Linked DNA regions of Homo sapiens. The protein of the gene in region 2 purifies or fractionates together with the protein of the main gene of each other region. This does not show direct contact. Each region holds a gene or a part of one and is shown on either strand. Other genes may lie near its edges.

Region 1 (3,747 bases), on a different chromosome or scaffold from region 2:
GAGAGAAAAAGATAAAGAGTTTGGTTTTCAACATATTGTTAGAGATGCCTATTAGACACATCTAAGATATTAAAACAAATAAATACACAGTAGAAAAGAAATGAAGAATGAACAGAACTACTACTTGGATAGAAAGTGCTTGTCCGTGACCTTACCAAATGTATATTTCTCAAGACAGCATTGGAATTACATTGGCCCAGTAGGAACTCTCACGGCTCCTACAGACAAAAATTTGTGAGCATCTGTTTACCGTTTTTTCCTTATTCGATATAATGGATTGCACAGACAAGCCACATTCTTTCTTCTTGCTTTTAAGTAATACGATTTGTTTGGGAAACCAGCTGCTGGGTTTGTTGTTCAAGGTTGATGAGTAACCTTAGAGATTGCAATGAGAAGCTGCTGGTCACAGACAGATGCCAAGTTCTTCAACCAGGGCTGGAGAGCATTGTAGCCACTCTTCTGGAGAGCATTGTAGCCACTCTTCTCTGGGCTGACCTGCTCATGCAGTCCCCCGCTTTTTTAACTGCACATATAAATCATCCAGTTATAGTATGATTTAAATAAGATTTTGCTTCCCTGCTCAGAAAGAAAGTACAAAAATTGCTTGTTGCTTGATGGAGGCTTTACAGAGCTGTGATTAAAAAGGAGCATACTACCTGGGTTTGAATCTTAGCTCCATCACTCACTAGGTGTTTGAATGCCTTAAGGTAGTCATCTCTGAAATGGGGATCATAATAGGACCTACTACTCTAAGGTGCGATTGTTGTGAAGATTAATCTTAATTCTGGCATGAAATAAGTATAAAATGGAAGCTCATCACACTGTTATTAAATTAATTTACTTTTTTCCTATGGATATAGATCTAGGAATCTCAAGATCTCAGCCCAAGGACCATTACCCATTTCTATCAACGACCAAGCAGGCCACGGGCTCTGATTTATATCCTCAGCCCCCTATTCCACTCACCTCCCCCTTTCTTAATCAAAGAGCACCACGGGATGGTGCCCCCAAGGAAGCCCTGGGAGGCTGAAAAGGAGGGAGCCTGAAACCAGAGACTAACAGTGGCAAATCGCGGGTGGGATTTGGCAGTTCAGAAAAGGAGGTACCATGCCAAGAGTGGGGGTAGCGGGGTGAAGTAGCGGGGTGAAGTGGGGGGCTGGTTCGGGACAGGCCACAAACCAGAAACTGCGAGAAGGCGCCAGAAGGGACCTGTTGAGATGGCGCAGGGTTGGGGGACCCAAGCGCGCGGGGAGGGGTGAACTAAGAATGGAGTCACGCGGAGGTGCTGCGAGGGACTGGGGCAAAGGCAGGTGATTGGGCGAGGGAGTCCTGGTTGCCACGGCAGCGACCAGAGGAGAAGGCTTCGAGGAGAGGAGGAGGCTGCTGTCAGTCCTCCTCCTGGAGGTCTCCCGCATCCCTCCTAGAGCCTCTGCTGACGTGTCAGTCGGAAACTGCTCAGACCTTCGCGGGCGCCGCCCCTCTGCGCTTGTCTTCCCACATGCCCCCGGCGCTCCGCCTGGTCCCTGCCCGCGTCCCTGCCCCCGTCCCTGCCCCCGTCCCTGCCCCCGTCCCCGCCCCGTCCCCGCCCCCGCCCCCGCCCCCGTCCCCGCCCCCGTCCCCGCCCCGTCCCCGCCCCAGCCCCCGCCCCAGCCCCCCCGTCCCCGCCCCGTCCCCGCCCCCGTCCCGCCCCTCTGCGCCCGCCCCGGCCTCCTCCTCCGCGTCACCGGCTCCCCGAGGTGACCACAACATGGCTGCGGCGCCTGGGCTGCTCGTCTGGCTGCTCGTGCTCCGGCTGCCCTGGCGGGTGCCGGGCCAGCTGGACCCCAGCACTGGCCGGCGGTTCTCGGAGCACAAACTCTGCGCGGACGACGAATGCAGCAGTGAGTGCGCTGGAGGGGCGGCTGGCCTCGGGGCGGCTGGCCTTGGGGTCTCCGCCGGCCCCGGGGGTCTCCGCGGCGGCGCCGCCTGGGCTGTGCGGGGACGGGAGTTCCGCAGCCCCTGGCCGGCCCGGGGGTCGCAGGCGGGATGGGCTGAACGCGGGGGTGGGCGCGCTCCGGGTCCCTGTGTCTGCCTTCTCCCGCTCTGCCTGCGCCCGGCCCCTCGGGCCTGACCATGGGGGCTGCACCTCCCACTTGTTGCCAGCGTTTTATTTTTCCTCTGCTGAGGCGGGGGGTTGCTTGCGGTGGTCCCCGGCTTCCCCAATAGTGGCTCACAGCGTCCCCTTCCCACCCCCCCAATCCGCCTGGGCTCGGAGGGTAGATGTGGTTGCGCGCCGCGCGTCTGGGCTCCCCACGCCGCAACCAAAGCTTTCCTGCCCGCGCTGCGGGGACCTCGGTGGGTGCATCACCCCGGCAGATGCGCTAAGGGCTCGGTGGGCGTTTTCCCAGTGGCAGGTTGATGGTGGGGTTTGTTTGGAAAGGCTCCCTGGCGCTGCTCCTTTGCCCTTCTGCTTTATTGGGATTTGGGCTTGTACCGCCTTTTGAACAGGAATTGGGAGTTTAGGTTTGGGACGAGTCTGGAGTCCAAGCACTCATTGTATTCCGAGGTCTCTGCCCCGACTTTGATCAATCCTGTCGTTTCTGTGCTTGGAAGCCGCCTTGCAGACTGCTAGGCAGGACTGCAGGAAGACCAAAATCTTTCGCTCTGCAGAGACCGAGGATCTGCACCGGCCACCTGGGACCGGCAGCCTCCTCTTCTGTGCGCAGGAAGCGGAATTGCTCTCCAGTCTGGGATTGGAGGTGGGCGGTGGAGAGGGCACAGATCTTCAGGCTCAGATGAAGAAGGTTATTACAGGAATGACAGTAAATACTCCAAGGGTCTCATAAGCCAAGCTTGGTTTAGCCTTAGCCGCTTGCGTGTTGAAACCTCTTCCCTCTATGTTCGCCGGACCAGGATCATTTTAGGGCCTCCCAGACCGTCTCAACCTTGTAACTTACTGATAGCCACTGCAGAAACGGTTTTTCATACACTGTTAAGCAATGCCTATAGAAACGTATTCATTTTAAGAAGGCCAAGAACTCTATGGTTTAGCTATTTATATTCAAATTGATGTTATCAAAACCGAATTTCATAATATGAACTGTTTGTATCTCTACAACACTAATCAAGAAAAGAGATCTCTAATGAGTGTGAAGCCATTCCTAGAGATAACCCTGTGGTTGATGTAAATAAACACTACAAAAGCGGTACAACTGCCATGATTTTTCCCTTTAGTTTTCTTGGGTCAAAGCCACGCTGTTACCCATTTGCCGTTGGCAATGGCAAGATAGTTGGTATTCTTTGCTTGCAAGCATTGCCCTGCCTGGGTTCCTCAAAACAGGTTACCTGGAGAATCATCACATCACTGATGCTTCTTCAGTACTGAGGCATGATGTTAGAAGAGCTCACGGTTGTAACATAACTTGAGAAATGGTACGTGTTCAGAGGAAACCAAATACAATAGGCATCAACAGGAGCAAGGTCTAGATGGGTCTGTGTTGTGTTGTAGAAAGTGTTTAGTAATGTGAGTATGTACGGTGCCCTTGTGTGGTTTTCAAATAGCTGTTCCACAGGGTGCATTTTGTTGGCATCTCAAATATTATTATAAATCCTCTATGATCTATTGTAAGGGGGAGCAAAAGAAACATTGCCATTTTCAATTCTGATCTTATTCCCAACCTTAAATTGTCCATCATCTTAAACCTGGCCTCACACTCAATTATATCTGAGCTACAAAGCTGACATGTTGGAAAGTAATCAGAGTTTAGC
Region 2 (3,747 bases):
TTTTTAAATCCCAACGTGGACCAAGCGTGGTGGCTCACGCCTGTAATCCCAACACTTTGGGAGGCCGAGGTGGGTGGATCACCTGAGGTCAGGAGTTCGAGACCAGCCTGGCCAACATGGTGAAACCCCATCTCTACTAAAAAATACAAAAATTAGCCGGGTGTGGTAACAGGTGTGTGTAATCCTAGCTACTCAGGAGGCTGAGGTGAGAAAATTGCTTGAACTTGGGAGGCAGAGGTTGCAGTGAGCCAAGATGGCACCATTTGCACTCCAGCCTGGGCAACAAGAGGGAGACTCTGTCTCAAAAAAAAAAAAAAAAAAAAAAAAAAAAAAAAAAAAATAGCTGGGCGTGGTGGCACATGCCTATAATCCCAGTTACTCGGAAGGCTGAGGCAGGAAAATCACTTGAACCCAGGAGGCGGAGATTGCAGTCAGCCGAGATTGCACCACTGCACTCCAGCCTGGGTAACACAGCGAGACTCTGTCTCAAAAATGAAAATAAAAAAAATAAAAAAATAAAAAAAAAATATCTCACTGTGGTCTTAGGGGATGTTATTTCAATAGTGAACTATGTTCCCTCTGGGATCAGAGCAGGTGAGCCCATATCCAGAGCTCCAAGACTCAGTTTAGGGGAATAGATGGCAAAGCAGAGAATCTAGAGAAGCAGCCCAGGGTAGGATCTGGATGGTCACCTGGAGAGGAGACCTGCAGGGAATGGATGGCTGTCTTCATCCAGAAAGACAGAGAATATATTCCACTTACACCAGAGGGCAGACAAAGCTGCCTAACCCTGATGGAGGTCCAGTGAGTGCCCATTGCAGGAAGCATTCAAGCTGAGGCTGGATGAACATCGACAGGGCTGTTGAGAGGGAGATTAGATGGCATTTCAGGGTCTTTTCCCTTTTAAGATTCTGGCATGGAGAGCTCTAGTTTTCCAACCAGCTTCATTTATCAAATCAACAAAATGATTGAAATGATCAGAGTTTGCAGGGAAGATGATGACAATGCTCACTAGCACCCAGTTTGCATCAAATTGAATACCTGCATTGGACTGAATATTCACTAATAATACACATTGATTATAAGTACCCTTGGCCCTAGTCCCCAAGGTACCTGCCAGTAGGAGCAAAGGGGACCCTGGGAGAGACCCAGGAGTCTATGCAATGGAAGGACAGGTGTTAAATATATATATATATATTTTTTTGAGGTAGAGTCTGACTCTGTCACCCAGGCTGGAGTGCAATGGCGTGATCTTGGCTCACTGCAACCTCCACCTCCTGGGTTAAAGCAATTCTCCTGCCTCAGCCTCCCGAGTAGCTGGGATTATAGGTGTTCACTACTATCCCCAGCTAATTTTTTTTTTTTTTTTTTGAGATGGAGTCTCACTCTGTCGCCCAGGCTGGAGTGCACTGGTGCAATCTCGGCTCACTGCAACCTCTGCCTCCTGGGTTCAAGCGATTCTCCTGTCTCAGCCTCCTGAGTAGCTGGGATCACAGGTGCACGCCACCATGCCCAGCTAATTTTTTGTATTTTAGTAGAGACAGGGTTTCACCATGTTGCCCAGGCTGGTCTCGAACTCCTGAGCTCAGGCAATCTACCCACCTCAGCCTCCCAAAGTGCTGGGATTACAGGCGTGAGCCACCGCACCCGGCTCATCCCCAGCTAATTTTTGTATTTTTAGTAGAGACAGGGTTTCACTATGTTGGCCAGGTTGGTCTCAAACTCCTGACCTCAGATGATACACCCGCCTGGGCCTCTCAAGGGCTGGGATTATAGGTGTGAGCCACTACACCTGGCCAGGTGTTAAAGATCTGAGTCATAGTTCCTGGTGATTCTCCAATGTATGACCCTCAATTCTCCAGTGTCTGAACGGCTCCCAGCTGCTGGTCAATTTTGGCTTGAGCCCCGCTGCTCCTCTGACCCCTCGTCAGTTTGCTCTGCTGTGCCCAGCCCTGCTTTATCAGATCGACAGCCGCGTCTGCATCGGCGCTCCGGCCCCTGCACCCCCAGGGGATCTACTATCTGGTCAGCAAGTAGGAGTGGGTGGGGGACACCCTGAATCCTGGAAGTGGGGCCCATGCCAAAAAGGAGGCTCACTGGGGTCCTGCCTCTCCTTGTAGTGTTCTCTCTGCTCCACCTTACGTGTGGGACCCTCCTCTTGCCCTGACCTAACTTCAGCCCCTGATTCTCCCCAGCCCTGCTTCAGAGTGCCCTGGCAGTCCTGTTGCTCAGCCTCCCTTCTCCCCTATCCCTGCTGCTGCTGCGGCTCCTGGGACCTCGTCTACTACGGCCCTTGCTGGGCTTCCTGGGGGCCCTGGCGGTGGGCACTCTTTGTGGGGATGCACTGCTACATCTGCTACCGCATGTATGTGAAGCCCCTTCCTTGTACCCCTGGCCTCCATGGATCTAAGGTGTCCCCAGCCATAGGACATCCCCTCCGCCTTTCCATCAGCTCCCATATCCTACTCCCAGATCCTGGCTTCAGCCCACAGCTGCCTTCTAGTAGAGCATATGAGCGAAGGCTTGCCACAATCCATGCAAGGGGATGTTGTTGGGTATAGGGGCTTCCAGAGTCTGCCCTGACCTTCTCTCTGTCAGGCACAAGAAGGGCGGCACGCAGGACCTGGCGGACTACCAGAGAAGGACCTGGGCCCGGGGCTGTCAGTGCTCGGAGGCCTCTTCCTGCTCTTTGTGCTGGAGAACATGCTGGGGCTTTTGCGGCACCGAGGGCTCAGGCCAGTGAGTGATACCCTTTTCTCCTCCTTCTGCTGAGACCAGAGTCCCAGTCAAGAACTGGGCCAGGCCGGGCGCGGTGGCTCACGCCTGTAATCCCAGCACTTTGGGAGCCCAAGGCGGGCAGATCACAAGGTTAGGAGTTCGAGTCCAGCCTGACCAACATGGTGAAACCCTGTCTCTACTAAAAATACAAAAATTAGCTGGGCGTGGTGGTGCGTGTCTGTAATCCCAGCTACTCAGGAGGCTGAGGCAGGAGAATCGCTTGACTTGGGAGGTGGAGGTTGCAGCGAGCTAAGATGGCACCACTGCACTCCAGCCCAGGTGACAGAGCGAGACTCCATCTCAAAAACAACAACAACAACAACAAAACTGGGCCAAAAAGCCAAGAGATGAGGAGCAGTGTGTGCTCCTGGATCTCTGACATTTGCCTGGTGTGCAGGACCTATCGGCTAACAGGGAGTGGGTAGGGGCTCCTTAAGCACAGACCCAGGACTTCTGGCCAAATGGCATCCTATTCTGAGCTCAAGTCAACAAGAAACAGAGGGGAGGTGCCAACTTGGGAAGAAGGTAGAGGCCAAAGAACATCCCAGGTGCCAGAGGTGGAACCAGGTGTTCATCTTCCCAGCTTGTGGCCTGGCTTCCCCTTAGTCCCTGGCTCTGCTGCCTCCTCCACCAGGAGGGATGCCCTCCTATTTCAGAGATGCTGCAGGCGAAAACGAAGGAATCTCGAAACACGCAACTTGGATCCGGAGAATGGCAGTGGGATGGCCCTTCAGCCCCTACAGGCAGCTCCAGGTGACTAGAGGAGAAAATTTGAAGAGTAGGTTCCAAGCTCACAGTCCTTACTTGCAGCCACCAACACTGTCCTGTGCTTCTTCCCGCAGAGCCAGGGGCTCAGGGCCAGAGGGAGAAGAACAGCCAGCACCCACCAGCTCTGGCCCCTCCTGGGCACCAAGGCCACAGTCATGGGCACCAGGGTGGCACTGATATCACGTGGATGGTCCTCCTGGG
Region 3 (3,747 bases), on a different chromosome or scaffold from region 2:
TAGTACACTATCTTGAAGTTTTTTCACTAGTCGCTGTTTCTCTGTTGTATTGGTCACTGGATGAGTAGTCATGTCAAATAGCAGGAAATTCTGCTTCTCAGTGGTTAGAATACCTTTCTCTACTAGGTTCTTTGCGATGCGCTCTCGTACATTTCTCAGCTGGTACTGTAATTTGAAGGGGTTCCAGGTCTCACCTATGAGAAAAAAGAAATAGGACATAATGAACTGAAAGAGAAAAGCAAAATGAAACATGTAGTTGTTTGGAAACTTGAATGGCTAAAATGTTTAAAAGCATAATCTTCATTCCTCAATTCATTTAATCCTTAGTCCTTTATAATCTGGCTTTGACTCCAACCACATTTCACATTAAACCAGCTTCAAAAAATGTCACCAAGGACTTCCATATTGCTAGAGCTTATAGACTTTATTTCTGTTCTTATGTGACCTCTGTGACACTGTAATTATTTATGTATTTTTCAAATTCTATTTAGGACACCAGTCTCTCCCAGATGATTTCTACTCTATATTGTGGAAGTTCTATTTGCTGGTGAAGCTAAGAGGACTGAGGTTCCCTACCCTATTTGTAGAGCAGAAGCTCTATCCCAGGCCTGGTAGGCTGACAATATTTAGACTTCAATTGCTCCCATTCCAGCTTGTTCGTAGATTAGAGATTCTGCAACAGAAAAGGCAAGTCAAGAAGACCAGGGGCTAACACCTCTTTCCCCCAGCACCTACTCATACAGCAGGTGGGTATCACTGTAGGAGAAGTGGGCCCTTGTGCAGAAGTTCTGCCCAGGAGGGAAGGAAGGCCTGAAGAATGAAGAGCTCCAAAGCTCTGCCTGAGAGGACTGACTTTATTTGGAACACAGTGTGGAGAATTCTATGCCTAAGGGTGTTGAAAACCATAGAGATCTTGGTGGAGAGCAATTACAAGGTGCTGCTAGCTCTATGGCACTGGTATGACAAACCCAAATGGCAAAGCCTCCAGAAGTTTAACAGGCAGAACCAGAGAAACAGAAAGCCAAGAAAAGTCCTTCTGGAATCATGACCAACACTGGGGGTTGGGAAGACTGTGTGCTTGCACCAGGCTGCACCCACTCAGGAGCAATCAGAGCAGGACGTGGGGCTTGACTTGAGAGTATTCCCCAGACCACACATAGATCTATCAAAAAAGGGTGGATGCTTCACTGGCACCAAGGGCTAAAGCACAACCACTGAACCAACACTGGCTGAACAATAAGCTACCCTAACTCAGAGGCAACTCCTAGAAAGCTAAGCTTAAAAATAATAATAATAGCCGGGTGTGGTGGTACACGCCTGTAGTCCCAGCTACTTGGAGGCTTAGGCAGGAAAACCCAGGAGGCGGAGGTTTCAGTCAGCTGAGATTGTACCACTGCACTCCAGCCTGAGTGACAGAGTGAGACTTCATCTCAAGAAATGAAAAATAAAAAATAAAAATAAAATTAAAAAAATCACATACATCCCTGGTGTATGTCCAAGGATGTACTCTCTCCGAGAAGAAATCAGAGAGGGAACTTCCAAGCTGCTAGTTCCTCACTGAATGTGGGGCAAAATGTAAACTCCCTGATTTGTGATGGCTATGTCAAAATCACACACACATATCCAACAGTAAAGGATAAAAAAATTTAATTGGCTAAAAGGTCTTAAGCACAACCTTTGACTAATAAGTGGCTTCTACTGACCCACTGGCAACACACAGGGAGTTAGGCCAAAAGATAAAAACAAGAAAATATGAGCAGTGACATCAGAGGCTGCACACTACAAGAGAAACAGACTTCAGAGAGCTGCTGCAGGCAAGTCACTAAGGAAACAAATTACCAAGCAAACAACACAATCAACCTCTAGTGGGAAGGAGAAACCAGTATAGCAGGTGTCCCCAACCCCTGGACCATGGACTGGTACTGGTCTGCAGCCTGTTAGGAACCCGGCTGCACAGCAGGAGGTGAGCCATGGGTGAGTAAAGTTGAGCTCTGCCTCCCATCAGATCAGCAGTGGCATTAGGTTCCCACAGGAGTGTGAACCCTATTGTGAACTGCACATGGGAGGGATCTAGGTTGCATGTTCCTTGTGAGACTCTAATAAATGCAATGCACTTGAATCATACCGAAACCATCCCCCCGTCTCCCACCCCAGTGGAAAAACTGTCTTCCACGAAACCTGTCCTGGTGCCAGAAAAGTTGGGGACAGCTGCAGTGTAGTATCCAGAGTTGCACAATTATCTAAAATGTCCAGTTTTTGACAAAAAAGTATGAAGTATACAAAGAATAAATTGTGACCCATTGACCCATTCAGAAGAAAAAAAGCAGGCAATGGAAACTGCCTTTGAGAACGCTAAAATGTTGGACTTTACAAAGACTATAAAGCAGCTTTTATAAATATGTTCAAAGACCTAAGGGAAACCATGACTTATCATATAGAGAATATAAATAAAGACAGAAATTATAAAAAAGATCCATTTAGACCAGGTGCGGTGGCTCACGCCTGTAATCCCAGCATTTTGAGAGGCTGAGGTGGGTGGATCATTTGAGGCCAGGAGTTCAAGACAAGCCTGGCCAACATGGCGAAACGCCATCTCTACTAAAAATACAAAAATTAGCCAGGTATGGTGGGCACCTGTAATCCCAGCTGCTCAGGAGGCTGAGGCAGAGAATCGCTTGAACCTGGGAGGTGGAGGCTGCAATGAGCTGAGATAGTGCCACTGCACTCCAGCCTGGGCAACAAAGCAAGACTCCATCTCAAAAAAACAAAAACAAAAAAACCATTTAGAAATCCTAGAGTTTAAAAGTACAACAGACTGGGCATGGTGGCTCACGTCTGTAATCCCAGCACTTTGGGAGGCTGAGGCAGGCGGATTACTTGAAGCCAGGAGTTTGAGACCAGCCTGGCCAATATGGTGAAACCCTGTCTCTACTAAAAATACAAAATTAGCCGGGTATGGTGGTGTGTGCCTGTAGTTCCAGCTACTCAGGAGGCTGAGGCAGGAGAATCACTTGAACCCAGGAGGCGGAGGTTGCAATGAGCCAAGATCACACCATTACACTCCAGCCTCAGCGACAGAGCGAAACTCAAAAAAAAAAAAAAAAAAAAAAGTACAACAAACAAAATGAAAAAATCACTCAAGGGATCCAACAAGAGATCTGAGCTGGCAAAATAAAGAATTAGCAAACTTAGAGATCAAAGAAATTATGTAATATGAAGAACAAGGAGAAAAGAGAATGAAGAAAAATGAACAGACTCAGAGAAATATAAAGTATCATCAACTTGATGAACATACATAAAATGGAAGCACCAGAAGGAAAGGAGAGAAAGAGGCAGAAAAAATACTCAAGAAAGTAATGGCTAAAATCTTGCCAAACGTGATGAAAAACACTCAACCACACATTGGAGAAGTTCAACAAACTCCAAGTTGGATGAACACAAAGAGACCCATATCCAACATCATAGTAAAAATGTTGAAAACCAAAAATAAGTGGAAAATCATGAAAGCAGAAGAGAAAAATGACTTATCACATCACAGTGGAACTTTGTAAGCTTAATAACTGACTTCCCATTAGAAAAAATGCAGGCCAGAAGAATGAGTAGACTTATTCAAAGTGAGGGTAGAAACTATTAGCCAAGAATCTTATAACTGGCAAACTATCTTTCAGAAATAAAAGCAAAGCAGGTGTGGTGGCATGCACTTGTAGTCCCAGCTACTCAGGAGGCTGAGGCAGGAGAATCACTTGA

What was found.
Region 1: the proteins of SLC39A5 (region 2) and MIA3 purify together in Homo sapiens (affinity purification with mass spectrometry; 3 studies listed by BioGRID and IntAct, with this or other methods). This does not show direct contact.
Region 3: the proteins of SLC39A5 (region 2) and GOLPH3L purify together in Homo sapiens (affinity purification with mass spectrometry; 3 studies listed by BioGRID and IntAct, with this or other methods). This does not show direct contact.

What each region holds. Positions count from the first base shown.
Region 1 is NC_000001.11:222,616,364-222,620,110, forward strand, and holds the start of MIA3 (transport and Golgi organization protein 1 homolog isoform 1 precursor), read left to right. Parts: upstream 1-1,733; 5' UTR 1,734-1,747; coding exon 1,748-1,880; intron 1,881-3,747.
Region 2 is NC_000012.12:56,232,962-56,236,708, forward strand, and holds part of SLC39A5 (zinc transporter ZIP5 precursor), read left to right. Parts: intron 1-1,862; coding exon 1,863-2,025; intron 2,026-2,195; coding exon 2,196-2,365; intron 2,366-2,598; coding exon 2,599-2,739; intron 2,740-3,412; exon of another isoform or gene 3,413-3,434; coding exon 3,435-3,531; intron 3,532-3,620; coding exon 3,621-3,747. UniProt on the Homo sapiens protein: Uniporter that transports zinc(2+) into polarized cells of enterocytes, pancreatic acinar and endoderm cells across the basolateral membrane and participates, notably, in zinc excretion from the intestine by the uptake of zinc from the blood into the intestine.
Region 3 is NC_000001.11:150,648,555-150,652,301, forward strand, and holds part of GOLPH3L (Golgi phosphoprotein 3-like), read right to left. Parts: intron 674-3,747; coding exon of another isoform or gene 627-673; exon of another isoform or gene 578-626; intron 195-577; coding exon 1-194. UniProt on the Homo sapiens protein: Phosphatidylinositol-4-phosphate-binding protein that may antagonize the action of GOLPH3 which is required for the process of vesicle budding at the Golgi and anterograde transport to the plasma membrane.